Homo sapiens: one gene and its partners. The protein of the gene in region 3 purifies or fractionates together with the protein of the main gene of each other region. This does not show direct contact. Each region holds a gene or a part of one and is shown on either strand. Other genes may lie near its edges.

What was found. The genes of interacting proteins can lie anywhere in the genome.
Region 1: the proteins of INSC (region 3) and GPSM1 purify together in Homo sapiens (affinity purification with mass spectrometry; one large-scale study listed by BioGRID and IntAct). This does not show direct contact.
Region 2: the proteins of INSC (region 3) and DNAJC1 purify together in Homo sapiens (affinity purification with mass spectrometry; one large-scale study listed by BioGRID and IntAct). This does not show direct contact.
Region 4: the proteins of INSC (region 3) and ENPP1 purify together in Homo sapiens (affinity purification with mass spectrometry; one large-scale study listed by BioGRID and IntAct). This does not show direct contact.

Annotation. Positions count from the first base shown.
Region 1 is NC_000009.12:136,348,039-136,351,538, reverse strand, and holds part of GPSM1 (G-protein-signaling modulator 1), read right to left. Parts: intron 2,843-3,500; coding exon 2,772-2,842; intron 1,953-2,771; coding exon 1,776-1,952; intron 1-1,775. UniProt on the Homo sapiens protein: Guanine nucleotide dissociation inhibitor (GDI) which functions as a receptor-independent activator of heterotrimeric G-protein signaling.
Region 2 is NC_000010.11:21,920,231-21,923,730, forward strand, and holds part of DNAJC1 (dnaJ homolog subfamily C member 1 precursor), read right to left. Parts: intron 734-3,500; coding exon 568-733; intron 1-567. UniProt on the Homo sapiens protein: May modulate protein synthesis.
Region 3 is NC_000011.10:15,240,423-15,243,922, reverse strand, and holds part of INSC (protein inscuteable homolog), read right to left. Parts: intron 3,477-3,500; coding exon 3,400-3,476; intron 2,357-3,399; coding exon of another isoform or gene 2,240-2,356; exon of another isoform or gene 183-2,239; intron 1-182. UniProt on the Homo sapiens protein: May function as an adapter linking the Par3 complex to the GPSM1/GPSM2 complex. Involved in spindle orientation during mitosis. May regulate cell proliferation and differentiation in the developing nervous system.
Region 4 is NC_000006.12:131,806,877-131,810,819, reverse strand, and holds the start of ENPP1 (ectonucleotide pyrophosphatase/phosphodiesterase family member 1), read right to left. Parts: upstream 2,801-3,943; 5' UTR 2,785-2,800; coding exon 2,545-2,784; intron 1-2,544. UniProt on the Homo sapiens protein: Nucleotide pyrophosphatase that generates diphosphate (PPi) and functions in bone mineralization and soft tissue calcification by regulating pyrophosphate levels.

The DNA.
Region 1 (3,500 bases), on a different chromosome or scaffold from region 3:
TTCTAGAAAGCCATCAGCCCCTGAGGCCGGCTGACTGGTCTGTCCCACACATGCTGCCAGCCTCCCACTCCTTCCTTGGCGGCCCAGATGTGATGGGCAGAGCCAGCTGTGGACAGGGCAGACCCAGCTGTGGACAGGGCAGGGCCAGCTGTGGACAGGGCAGGTGTCTGGGTCCCAGTCCTGCTCCTCCCTCCAGGCCCAGGGAGGCTGGGGGATCACCGGGACCCCCGGGAAGGCCTGACCAGGTGCTCCCTGGGTGCCCTTCCCTCCACACCTCTCCCATCAGTGGACGGATGGACCTAGCCCAGATGGTTGGGCAGTGCTGGGGCTGAATGAGGGGAAGGTAGGCTGTGCCCTGCTGGTGGGAAGGATGGGCTTGGGCAGCCTCGGGGGGCTGCGAATCCCAGCCCAGCACCCACACCCCTCTGCAGGTTGGTGCCCACGGAAGAACAATTTCAGACTATTTCTAGTGGTTTGGACCCAGCCGTCCTGCTCGGGGGAGCTCCAGGCTGACCTCCGAACCCGGACTCGGCCCATCGGTGCCCCTGAACACCAACCAGCTCTCCCGTGGCTGGGGTGGCCCTGGCACAGCTGACACCTGCCAGGCACAGGCCCGGCCTGTCACCTGTCCCCCCACCAACCCCGAGTCTGACCACCAGTCTGTCTGTCCCCCGTCCGTCCACCCATACACTTGGCAGTCACTGCAACTGCCCCACCCCTCCCGCCACCTCTGTGTGCCACAGCAACGCGGGGGGCTCCTGGCTAGCCCTGAGGACCCGGGTGGCGCCCAGGCTGCGCTGCTGCTGCTTGCTGGGCTGTGACCCTCTGCTCCACTCGTGACCTTGAGCCCAGGTGGGGTAGGGCAGGGTGGGGCCTCCCAGCCCCTGACCAGGAGGAACCCTGAGTGGACCTAGCCCCTTGCTGTCCCCTCACCAGGGGCTCTGCAGCCATGCACAGGCCACCCAGCTGCATCCCCTCCATGACCCCACTCACCATCGGTCCTGCCCCGGCCCCTGCACCCACAAGGAGAGGCCCCAGTACCTTGGCCCAGCTGGAGCTGCAGGTGCTTCCACACCAGGGCCTGACCATGGGTGTGGCTTAGGGGCTTCCCACCCACCCCTTGGGTGCCCCTCAGGCCCCTCTGCTCAGGGACCCCCGCCAGGTGTCAGAGATCCCAGGATTCCCCCAGGGACTGTGTTGGCCTCGTCCACCCCTCCAGGGCCCTGGTAGGATACACAGGCTTGACCTCACTGGCCAGAGCCTCCAAGAGCCACCTCAGGAAGGGGCACCCCATCAGGGGATCTGTGCAGCCCGGCTCTCACAGTGAAGGCAGCCAGTTCCTTTCAGGGACACGCTCCTGTGACTAGCGGATGGGTCTGGAGGGTCCCAACAAAGGAGGGTGGGGGCTGGAGTCAGAGAGAGAGGCCACCTGAAGGCTGGGAAGAGCCAGCCCCCAACTGGTGAACAAGATGGAAACTGAGGCCCAAAGAGAGGCGGGGCGTTCCATGCAGAAGAGCCCAGCCTAGAGTCCCCAGGAGGCTCCTCGGTGGCCGGGGCCTCTGAGGCCAGGTGCGACCACAATGCTAAACACTGAGCCCTGCCCAGAGCCCCCACCGGGGTCCCAGGACAGCACTGCACCAGGTGCACCGGGGAGGGACCCCTGCCTCCCCGGAGTGCCCGGGCCTGACCTGGCCCCGTTGGCTGGCAGTGGAGTTGGGGCGCAGTTGCCAAGCTCTCCTCCCTCTCGGCCTGGATCTGCCGTCAAAGACGCCTACCGTGCGTGGCACGTGCACCCGGACGTCGGCGCTGTCCAGCGGGGAGTGGCTGCCCTCCCGGGGCCTCCTCTCAGCGTCCGGGCCTTCCTGGTACTTCCTGCTCCTCACGGGGAGGGGTAGCGAGTCCCTGCTGGGCCCCCGCCAGTCCCCTGAATGGTGGCTGTCTCCATTCTGCTCCTGGGGAGGGGTAAGGCTGTGCGTGGCCTGGGCAATTGTGAACCAATGTCCCCATCCCAGGACCCTGAAGGGAAGGCCAGGCCGCCTCCATTTCATGGATGCACGCCGTAGGTGCCCAGTACCCAGAGAGGAGGAGAGGACTGGGGCTGTGGGCCCTTGGCTGGGGCCGGGAGAGGCAGGGTGGGGTGTTTGAGGGCCAGTGGCCCCCGCAAATGTCAGCCGGCTTATACCAGCAATGACAGTGACTGTGGGCGTCCTTGGGTCTCGTCCCCACAGCAGAACCCTGACGGCCATCCACAACTGAACACAGGCCACACCAGAGGAACCAGAGGCTCAGAGAGATCAGGCTGCTGGCCCAGGCCACACAGCACCCACTGCCGACAGGCACAGGGCCAGCCCAGGGCCCTACGCCAGGCAGCCCCCGAATCTGTCTGTGTGGGTCTGCTGAACCCCAGCCAGTGTCTGCACCTGCAGCAGCTGTGCCCACTTTGGGTCAGAGTCCGAGAGGGCAGGGAGCAGGCAGGAGTGGGTGCCCCTGTCTGTGGGCTCCCGAGGGTGTGGTGGCATAGCAGCTGGGTGGAGTATGGGGGCCTGAAATGTGTGAGGACCATGCCTCGCCTGGGGCACAGCTGGCCAGACGCTGAGGGACATGGGTGAGCAGGTGGCAGATGGGCCATGCAGGGCATCAGGCCGAGGAGGGCACATTTATCTCCCAGCAGACAGGGGCTGAGGTGGGTGGCGGTGGCTCTGCCTCATTAACCCCGCTGCCCATGCTCTGGCAGCGGCTGTGCTGACATCGGTCCCGTGTCCCTGGCTCACCCGCTCCAGGGGGAGTCTCAGCAGGTCCCAGGTCTCCGCGCTCAGCCTCTGCGTCCTCTTGGGTCTGGCCCCTGAAGACAGAGGGACCCGGTCAGCCCAGCACCACCCTGGCACCTCGCATTGGGTGGGCCAGGCCAGAGTCTCTGGGGGGCCAAGGACCAGCCCGGCCATGGCTTTCTGACAGCCAGCCCCCCTTGTGGAGGCGAGCGCCATGTCTGAGTGTCCTCTGCGTCTCCCCGACTGTACTGTCAGAGTCAAAGGGGACAGGTGTCGAGACAGAGCGCGTCCTGGCTGGGGCCAGGTGGGGTCTGGCTTTGGCTCCCTGTGCTGGAAGGGCCCGGCTCTGGACAGGCCTCTCCCCTGCCGCACACAGGGCCTCCCCCGTCAGTCCTGCTGTTCCCTCTGCCTGGATCACCCTTCCTGTGGCCCCTGGTCACCTCTGTGAGGCCACCCAATCCCCCCTCCTGAGGGTGCATCATGCTGTGCCCCGGAGGCAGGTGGGGCGGGCCTGTGGGTCCACTCCCAGCTCACTGCGGGCAGCCCAGGCCAGGGTCGGGGACGCAAAGGCCTCAGATGAATCCCCCAGACCAGCTCTGCCGTGGGACCTTCCCCGGGCTCCTGTCCATCCCTCCTGGCCCGGGGCTCACCCTACTGGCCGTGTCTCCACCCAAGGGACCCCCATCCCCTCTAGCCGCAGTGGGGTGGTGGGGCACAGCTGCCTGACCCAAC
Region 2 (3,500 bases), on a different chromosome or scaffold from region 3:
CTTCAAAAGGAATGAGTAAACAGATGCTAATTCATGAATACTGATAAATATGTTTGATTATCTTTAACATATAAATAAAAACCCAAAGAATAAACTATAGAGTAGCATATTAAACCAAGAAAAGTGTAATAATTTTTTTAACCAATTGAAGTTAGAATATTATATTCATTTCCAATTTTATTTATTTACCTAAAACATTTTAAAAGTAAACATTCATTATATAAAGGCCTGTGACACAAAAAAATCTAAAATCAGTCTTAAATAAAAAATATTTCTATTTGGAAGGTGATAATGAAAACATGGCTCTACCTTCTAATTCCCAGCTAGATATTTGGGCTTTCACAAAGTTTTATAACAAACTTAAGTGCCACATTTTTTAAAAGAAGAATATTTTCTTATTTCATGGGTTCTTCTTGACTTAGAAATATGTCAAACATTGAGTATAAAACTATTAGAATGAGAAGTATACAGAGAGAAACAGAAATTTTCATCAGTTGAAAAATAAATGTCCAAAATTCCATATAAAATTAAGGAGGCTAGTTCATTTGATTTATTACTAACACTTACCAGTTGTTTTTCCAGGTAGATTGACCAAACCACAGCATAATGACCCACTGTGAGAATAATGAACAAGAGTAATGCCAGCTCAGCATTGCTCATTTTTCTCACCCGCCTGTAGTAGAATACAGGCTGTCGCCAATCTGGAAGTCCATTGATCAGAATATCATCATACCTACAGTACAAATATAACAGTTTTTCACGGGGAGTTTAAAATAAAAACAAAAAAAACTATTTGTGCCTATATTACAAAAAGGAAAAAGAAAACAAATTATCCAAAATAGATAATGTTTATGTACGTTCCCAGCATTATAATATCGAGTAAATTCAAAGCACTGTAGATAGCTCTAGTCACTGACACCCTTCAAAAAAGTGTCCAGTAATATACTGTGGATACCAGATCTCATGTTTTTACAGCACCCAAAGATGTGACTCCTGGAGTGACATCTAAACTAAAGGAGCTACGTGTAGTCTACCTGTCTACTAGTCTATAGTAAAGACTCTACCATTGAAGTCAGCAACAAAAAGGAGGATCTCAATAGGAGAAAGATCAAGATAAGAGCTGTTTGTTACCGTGAATTACATATTAATTGAATCAAATTCAGAATAAATTTTCTAGTCAGTGCTTTTATGTCTACCCCTAAACTACGGTGGCTCAAGGCTGAAGTATTTATACACATGATTTTATCAAAGCTTTTTAATGAGGTAAAAGCCTATAAAATTGAGTGTCTTTTAATTTTGTATTGCTATATTCCTTTAGAAAATAAAAAACTCCCAAATTAAAAAGAGATGTGGTAACAACCAGTGTTTATGTTGGATTTCTCAATAAAACTGTTTATTTGTAAACAATTAAGTGGCAATTTCCTCATTTTTGGCTTTTGCTGGAAGAGAAGAACATTAACAAGTAAAAGCTTTCCTAGTCCTTTAAAAAGCTGATGCATTTTAAATCAGCTTTCTTGGTACTATCAGGATAAAAAAGTTACTTTAAAATAAATTTTCAACTCAATTTAAATTTACTTGTCAGACAATCATTGAACAAATATCTTTGAGGTTAAAAATAAGGAGTAACATTTATGACTGTAAAACTCAAAATGGTCACATACAAACACTGTGTGTTCAACACACACAACCTGTTAATTGAACACAACTCATTAAATATTCTAATCACACTATTTCCAGAATTAAATCTTCACTGAAAGGCCTAATTTGGTGCAACACATTGACCAAAATATTTTAATTAAAAATATTCTGAGTTAGTCGCAGGCCTAATTACAGGAATAGAAATAGGGCCTATATTGTCAGGCAGGTCAGTAGAACTCGGTAGTAGGTTTTTCTCAAGTAAATTGACCGATCTAGGAATAATAGCGCAGCTGCTAAACTGCCAGTCTTGACATGTAAATCAATTTAAATGCAACAACTGCAGTAGCTACTTTGATAGTTATTAAATTGATACCTTGGAGATATGCTAAAAAAATAAAGCAGAGGATTTATTACAGGCAACTTCTTTTTTCAGTAGAAAAACATCAGATATAAATGTAAAATATATTTTATTAGCAAATCTAGAAAACCTGACCTTCTGATCAACTTAGGTTATTAATAACAATATCATCAAATTGGAATAACCAATGTTGAAAGCAAAGGACATTAATTAGTACTAAACTCTTAAAAAGCAAATTGTGTAATATACAAGAGTCTACAAAGTAATGTATGGTTTGGCAGTAGCTACACCAGAAAAATTTGGTGCTATTCTTTTTCAATGTTTATCGAAATTCTTGAATATTAACATCAAGATATAATAATATGACTTCATAAAAACTATCATTCATGTTATCAAAAATTTATGTTTAAATCTATCTTATAAATACTGATTCATTTTAAATGAGAAAATGTATAGGTAAAAAGGTTTCAAGTGCTCTAACATAAGATTACAACATTCAAATGAAGTCCAATCAACCTTAAGTCCTGAATCTATTCTCAATCCACATTCTACTTCAGATTTGTTGAGGGAGAAAAAAGGTGAATATAGAAATCATCATTTTCAGCAAACCTCTCCCATGAAATAACTTCAGGTAAAAAGTATAGTTATTGATAAAGAACATCTAAGAAAATGGAGACAATTCCCTAATAGCACTCTTAAGTATTAAATTTGCTTTGGGTATAACTAAACTATAGCAGAAGAGAAAACAGCTGAACTCATAGCTAAGAATCTCTTATCAAATATTTTATCACCATCATAACTGAAAGTGCTATGTGTCTGTTAATAGCTACTATTTTCTACCCTACGTACAAATTGTATTTGGTGTACAAATTCAAGATAGCAAAATCTCATGCACTGAACACATTAAACAGAACTAGATATTTACTAGCCTATGTCTGTCACTCTAAACAACAGTCTCTAAGGATTAAGCTTAGAATCAATGCTCTATTGATTTTACTATCAATGAACTATATTATAGCTCACACGACTGGCCATTTTAAGGAAAGATAGCTTCCATTATAGTTCATTTTTTAGAATATATGCTGTTAAAAGATAAATCACTGCTTTCTTGATGAAACATTGAAAATACATTTCTTACCAAAGTACACACAGACACTTTTCATAAGTTATTTAAGAAGAAATACTGTGTTGACAACACATAAAATTTAAAACATCACTGTATTAGGCTTTTCTATATTTAAACATATAACACTGTTAAAATGCTCTGTATTTGGGATTCATACAAACTGTTCTCAACTATTTATTAAAGCCAGATTAAGAATGTATAAATGTATGTGTTGTAAGATATAAAGAAAGAAATCTCTATGATAAAAAATATCACTAATGCTAAAAATCATAGGAAATTATAATGGCATTTTCTTGGAAATGAAAACATTAATCAATTCCACATATCCAACATATGGCCTAATGTGTGTTTATTTCACTTGATTTTCTTAAAATATAC
Region 3 (3,500 bases):
GTATAAAAAAGAGATGGAGGAAAAAAAAAAAAGAAATAGTGGCAAAGAAAATAAAAGAGAGAGCCCTTAGGGGGAGGGGAGATAATAGGAGAGAGGTAGGGTGAGGTAAGGAGGCAGAGAGAAAAAGGAAGGAGTAGAGAAGGAGAGAAAGGAGTTATGGTGATAAAAAGAGGGGAAGAAGGGAAAGAAGAAAGAGAAACTGCTAAGAGAGAAGGCAAACCCTAGAAAGAGAGCAAAGCAGAAACCAAAACACAACAGAGAGCGGCAGAGAGAGAAGAGACACCCTTACCTCCCCAGGGCCCCCAGAAAGTCTACAGGACATGAACCCTACAGTAGCTCAGAGCACCCCCTCCTCAGTGTGCAGCAGCCTCAAAGGACCCTGCACCCTTGCCAACCCTTCTCTCAGCCTCTGCTTCTCTGGGAGGGTTAAACAGCTAGTCATCCTAGAATCTCATTCCCAGACAGCCTGAAAACACCCAAGCATTAAACAAGCCTGGCAACCTACTGACAGCTGCTTCATTCAGGAAAAATCCATTCTTTTTGGGAGAGATGATCTGCACTGCCACTTTCCCAGACAGGGGAGACAATAAGTGAAACTTCCTCCCTCTACCTGAAGGGAGCCTTTGAAGCTGGGAAACGCCTTGGGGAAGAGCAGGAATGGTGGCTTCTAACTCCATCTGCCAGGCTAGGCTCCAAGTGAATCTCACCAACCAGGAGACCACACTCAAATGTTGGAACACTCCTAGGGACAAACCATGGACACCCCCAAGACTGGGAGCTAGGAAAAGAGGAAGCAAGTCTGTCAGTCCCCAAATCAATTAATACATAGTCACCAAACTCAAGGTCCCATGGATATACAAAATGCTGGAAAAAGTCCTCTGCCCTGGGAAGGTTCCAGGCTAGAGGGGGAAAAGTACAAATCCTCCTCCATGAGTCAGTGCTGGAGACCAGTGCTGTAAGAGAGTGGGAGAGAAAGAGCATGGCTTGGAACAAGATGGTCTGGTTGAAAAGTGCAGGCCTCTAGAATCAGGCAGGCCTATGTCTGAATTCCAAGAGCCTCCCCTTAAAACACCTGGGACAAAGATAATGGAACCTGCCTTGGACTTGGTCAAACAAAACCCAAGAGAGGAGGCTCAGGTTCATGCTGTGTACTCTCTGGCTTTGCACCACAGAGAGCTCCTGGAAAATTTTGTGAAGAAGAGAGATTTAGATCTAAGCTTGGAAGGATTGGCAGAATTTTAATACACAGATTTACAGAGAAAACATTTGCTGGGAGCAAGGATCACGGCACAGTTCAGGGTGTTCTGGCTTAGCCCAGGTGGACAGGGCCTGGAGAGAGTGGTAGGTCTGCAGCCCTAGGGATGGGTTGGAGCCAGACTGAGAAGGGCCGAACAGATGGACAGTGGCCCAGAGATAATGAGGAACCACAGAAAGGTTCCATGGGGGTTTCATGAAAGTGTCATGATTATAAACTGTCATTAGGAAAATTAACTCAGAAGCCACACGGAGAATGGATTAGGGAGGGAGGGGTTCTCTTCAGCATCCACCAACTCATCCACAAGATATAATCCTTTTTCGGCTTGAAAGTCCTTCAAGTGATTAAAGATAGTAGCCAAGCTCTTCTGTGTGCTCTCCTTCACACTAATAAAAATGATAGCTGTAATAATCACAAGCCTTCATATCTGAATGGAGTTTTATAGTTTCCCAAGTGCTTTCAATGCTACCAACATTTCCTCAGGGCCTATTCAGTGTCAGGCAGTGGTAGTTGGGGCCAATCATTACATGTTAATTTCCTCTCACTTCACTTGCTAGAACAGGCAGAATTAAGAGGATCTGTGAACTTGAATGAGAAAAAGTTACATCTTTATTTTCACCAACCTGTAACTGAAACTTAGCATTTCCTTCAGTTGCAATGTGAATGCAGCAACAAACCATGGCATCTTCACAAACCCTGTGATTTGTGATTTCCCAGTAGAAATTACAAATACTTTCACAGCCCGTGAAAGTTGTTGAAAATATTTTCAAATACCATTTATGGTCCACATGAGTCAAGATGACAATACTTACTAGGCTTACTGCTAGGTCTTATTTAATGATGTGTTGACTAAAAAGCAAATATATTAATATATCACATACTTAAATAGTTTAATAATTTTTAATATAATTCACTTTGGTTTTAATTCTATATATTTTACTTTTTTGCATTTAAAGGATTATTCTGAGAAGGGCTCCGTAAGCTTCACCAGAGTACCAAAGATACAAAAAGATTAAGATTACCTTGAATGTGCCAAAATAAAAACCACAGCAGGAGGGCAGAGATGTTTGTCTTTTTTACCTGCAGCTGTATCCCCATAGCCTAGAACAGTGAATGGAACGCAGAATCATTCCATAAACATTTATTGAATAAAATGTATAGCACTGAGTGACTTATCAAATGTCACACAGCTCATTAATGGTACAACCAAGACAGGTCTGATTGACTGCAATGCCCCACTGTTTCTACAACGGCACAACGCCCATCAGAAACTCCCAGAAAAGAGACAAGCTCAGCTCAAAATGGGCTGAGGAGAGGACTTTACTGTGAGACAGCTTGAAGGATCTTTAAATCCATCACTTCCCCCTTATGTTCTTTGAACACAAGAGCCAGCACTTTCTTCTGGAAGTTAAGGGTTGTGTTTATAGAGTGGCTTCCCTACTCCTAAATGTTCCTAAATGGAAGCTACTCTACTTTGGGAGTCCTTAGAGACCTAGTAGGGAAGAATATATAGACGAAGCATGCATTTTCTCTCTGGTACTATTGATTATTTCATGGTGGACCCCTAGCAAAAAGAAGTTGGGTGGGGACTTCCTAGGAGACACTTGCTTGTGTTCAAGGTGAAGATCCAGGTGGCTGCTGAATAGTCCACTCTGTCTTGTCATGTTCCTTCTCTTTCTATTCCACAAAGGAGGAGAGAGCTACAATGCTGGAAGAGCACCAGCAGATGGGCTCCCTGTAGGGACAAGTGGAGGTTTTTCTCACTTTATTCCCTTTGGAATAGGCAGGGGATATCCCTATCCTAGCTCCCATGTTCTGCAGGCACCATGACATAGACACGACCAGCTAGCGTTCCACAGGAACCTCAAAGGTTCCTGGTTCCTAAAATTGTAGTGGTAGAACAGAGGGAAGAGGGAGTTTCTCAGCCCTCATCTTTCACACATATGACCTCATATAATTTTCATCATGATTTTATGAATTAAGTGAAACAAATATTACAATGTTCACAATCCTAAAGAGAAAAGCTAAAGCCCAGAGAGGTTTTATGGCTTACTGAAGCCAGCCACAGCACAGCCGGTTCTCCTGGCCCCCTTGGCTGCATTCCGAAGGCCAGGGGAAAAGCTGGGGGAAGACTGAGAACTCACCAGGCAGGCCACAAGCACGGCGTCACTGCTGTTCCTCTCTGATGGGGATCTGCAGAGCTCGATGAGACGGGACATGCCTGTAGGAGACACAGGGAGAGCCT
Region 4 (3,943 bases), on a different chromosome or scaffold from region 3:
CTACATCATTTTAGTTTATCTGAGAAAACTGCAGAGTAATGTAAAAATTACATTGCCACTGCAACATGATTGCCTCTGAAAGGCAAGGCAACGCAACTCTTCTATTTATCCTGCTAAATTAAAACAGTGTAGCTGAGGATCATAGTGCTGGGCCTCTCCTAATCCCAACCCCAGGTTGCAATTAGTTCAATCTGTTTCTGCAGCTTTATGAAAAGTGTGCTGAGGTTTAATCTGAAAACAAAAGGAATTCTATAATTGCAGCTCCTTTCTAGAAGACATATCCCAGAGCTCTTTGACGACAATTGTCAGGATGCTTTTGGGGCCTTTTCCATTTGGAAGCCCATTATTTGGGGAAGTTTTTGGGGGGGGGGCGGGGTTGGGGGAAAAAGGTATTGAAGTAGGGAAGGGAAAGAAGAATACGAGTTTGCACTTTCAGTTCAGTAGCTAAATAGCAATTTCAACAATAAAGGGTCTCACCGTGTCACCCAAGCTGAAGTGCAGTGGCACAATCACAGTTCACTGCAGCCTTAACTTTCCCTGGCTCAGCTGAACCTCCCATGTCAGCCTCCCAAGTAGCTGGGACATAGACGCATGCTACCATACCCAGCTAATTTTTGTATCTTTTGTAGAGATGGGTTTCATCATGTTGCCCAGGCTGGTCTCAAACTCCTGGGCTCAAGCAATGGAACCGCCTCAACTTCCCAAAGTGCTGAGATAATAGGTATGAGTCACCGCACCAGGTCTATTTGGTAACATTTGTATGTTAATGTCTCACAGTGTTCCATCAAAAGATATGAAGTAAGAATTCTTTCCAATTCAATAGATGCAAAAGACCCCAATTAATGGATAAAAAAGGTCCATAATAGTCCTACTTGTGGAAGTAAGTCCTAGGACACTTCCATGTCAAATGCCCAGAGTAGCATCATCACACAGAATGCTGTTTGACCAGTTGACTGCAGGTCTCAAAGACTGGACAGCTTATTCCAAAACTAGACCTTTGCTGATATCTGTTGTGGATGTATAAGTAAATGAGCAAGAAAAATTTAAAACCTGAATTTTGCAATTGGAAAACCTGTAAAGGTTTATAGGCATGTAGAAATGGTTTTACACAAGAGTTACACACTGATTCCATATACAATTATCGACTACCTCATCGTGTGTGAAACACCTCAAGGTATTAATACTAAACAATTTAAGTGATCAGGTTGTAAAAGCTAAGGTCTTCCATTAACAAAATTTTTAAAAGGTGACTCAAGAGACTAAGTTCTCATCAATATTGTGTTATTATAGACTCAAAACAGTGTTACAAGATGCAAAATTTTATCTTGAGATGCAAACATCATGTGGCTTGGGGTACTTATTCTGTGAAACTAAGGCTTCTTTTTAAGTACTAAGCATACGGCACCATCTCTTAAGTCTAGGAAGATTGATTCCTCAAAGTATTATAGCATCTCCATGATGTCCCAAATATAGTGAAAATGGAAATGCATACAAAATGAAAGGAGACTTGAAAAATTAGAAATTTTTCTACAAAGCATTATTCAATCATATGTAAGGGGATATATTTTAGGGTACACTATACATAGAAATCTGTGATTTCCATATAATACAATAAAAATGATTCTATTTCCTTGCTGTTTTCAATTTACTTCCCTACCTACATTCTTCAGCTTGATTTTCACAATAATCCCATGCAATGCACAAGGGAGTTGATGTTGTCCCATTTTCACACATTAGAAATTGAGGTTTAGGGACAGTTACGCAAGGCCTCAGCAAATAATAACAGCCAGGAATCCAGGCCTTCTCTCAATCAGCACTTCCCACCATGAATTCAGAATAAAAACCAACCCCCACATTTCATGAAGTTGACTGTGGGTCCTGCAAATGTCATAGCAAAATAGCAGAGGAGTAATAGGTAGCTTTTGTTAGCAACACAAACCGTGTAGCCTCTGGTTAGAAGAGTGGGCAAAGAATCATAAAGGTTTCTTCAGTCACATAATGTGAACATCCATGGAATTTCTGAGCACCTGCAAGGAAATTCCAAAACGGAGCGAAAGGGAAAAAGTGTTCCGTAGAGTTCCTAATAAAACTTAAAGAGCTCCGCTAACTCTTCAACTGCAATCAGTTAACCCAAGTGAAGTCATGTATACTGCGCCCAGAGCCCCCTAAAAGAAGCAACACATTGATGCACCTTCTTAAGACCAACAACTTTCGCGTTTGACATTTTTCTCCTCTAAAAACCCGTACTCTCCTGGGGCAGGGGGTCGAGTATTTCTAAGGATGACCGTTTTGAACAGCCTGCTTTCACAGGCATCCATAATTCAAGTGAGAGTGAACCATCCTGCCCTGGCAAGGTACCTGGCAGGGGCGGCTGTGTAGGGCACTTGCAAAGGCTGCGGAGGAGAGCGCGCGGGCGAAGAAGCACTCCCGGACCATGCCTCTCTCCGGTGCCCGGTGCTGACTGCGCTGAGAGCGCAGGAGCTCGGCGCCGCCCTCCCCGTACTCCCAGCCCTCCCGGGCGCCGGGGCCTGGCCGCGGACCTACCAGCGAGAGTACTTTATAGGTGTTGGGGTCCTTGGCAGTGCGGGCGCGCGCCGCCTTCTCCAGCGGCTCCTCCCCCACGTCCATAGGGGCCAGCAAGGACGCGGCCGCCTGCGGGTCCCCGGGCGCCTCGGCAGCGTGGCTGCGGCCCCGATCGCGGCCGTTCCCCGCCGGGCCCTCCCGGGGAGCGCGCCCGCCCTCGCCGCCGCGGCTCCCGCCCCCCGCGCAGCCGTCGCGCTCCATCGTGGCCCCGGCCGCTCCGGCCCCGCTGCCCGGCCGCGCCTTTAATAGGCCCCGCGCCGCCCGCCCCGCCCCGCCCCTCCCCGCCGCGCCCGCCCCTCGCGGTCAGATCCTTGGCTCCCCGCCCTACACCCGGCTCTCGCAGTCAGGGCAAAGCGACTCAACGCCCCGGATTATTTGGCTTCCTGTCTGATTTCGGGCACTCTGTGTGTCGGTTATTTTGGGTCCCTTACGTGGGCGTGTCTTAAACTTCCCCCCAAGCCGTCCCCTCCCCGCGCCCCGGCCACCCTCCCGACACTTGCAGGAATCGCCCTGCGTGGCCTCGCGGCGCGGGCTGGGCTGGAATTGCAGCGTGTGGTCTGCAGAGGGCATGAGATCATGGGGCCCCAAAATAGAGCGGGGAGGAGGAGAAGGATGCAGCCGCCGATGCCGGTCCGGCTTCTCAAAGGCGGGAGAGAGTGGAGTCTTGGGGTCGACCTGTGAGTTTCTGGATGGAAATGCAAATGAACCATGGAGGAAGGCGACTTTCTGTTTCTCCCCCTCTGCGCCCCGTCCCCCACTACCTACGGTACTCTGAGAGAGAAATCGTCCACTTAAAATACGTGGGTTCACATGTACTGAACACACGTAAGGGATATTTCGATTCCCACGGTTTTATGTGGTTTCTGGAGTCTTCTCGCTATTGTTTGTATGTATATTTGCTTATTTTTCTAGACTTTCTGTATTGAAGGTTTCAGGAGTTGGCGTTGCCCTCTCCTGAGGTTGACACTGATACCTAGCTATATCAAAAGTGTTAATGCAATCTGAAATACTTTGATAAGCCTTATTTTTCAACTAGGACGCTAACAGTGAGCTGATTCTTGGTGGGTTTTGTTTTACCTTTGATTCTGGAACTTGTACATTTTCTGGCTCATCACTTAGCAAAATCACCAGTGTGTAGTGAAGTGAGACAGAGGGAAACCAGTGACTTCGAACTACTTTGCAATACCCAGGACTGACTTCAGGTACCAAGGAAAACAATTAATTTTCAATACATTTTGAATACATGAATATATACAAGTGTTTACAAATGAGAATGAATGTTTAACAAATATAAAATGCATGTTATCCCTTTAAAATAGTCAACTTGGGATGCTCTTCATTTATACTGACTCATCCATCC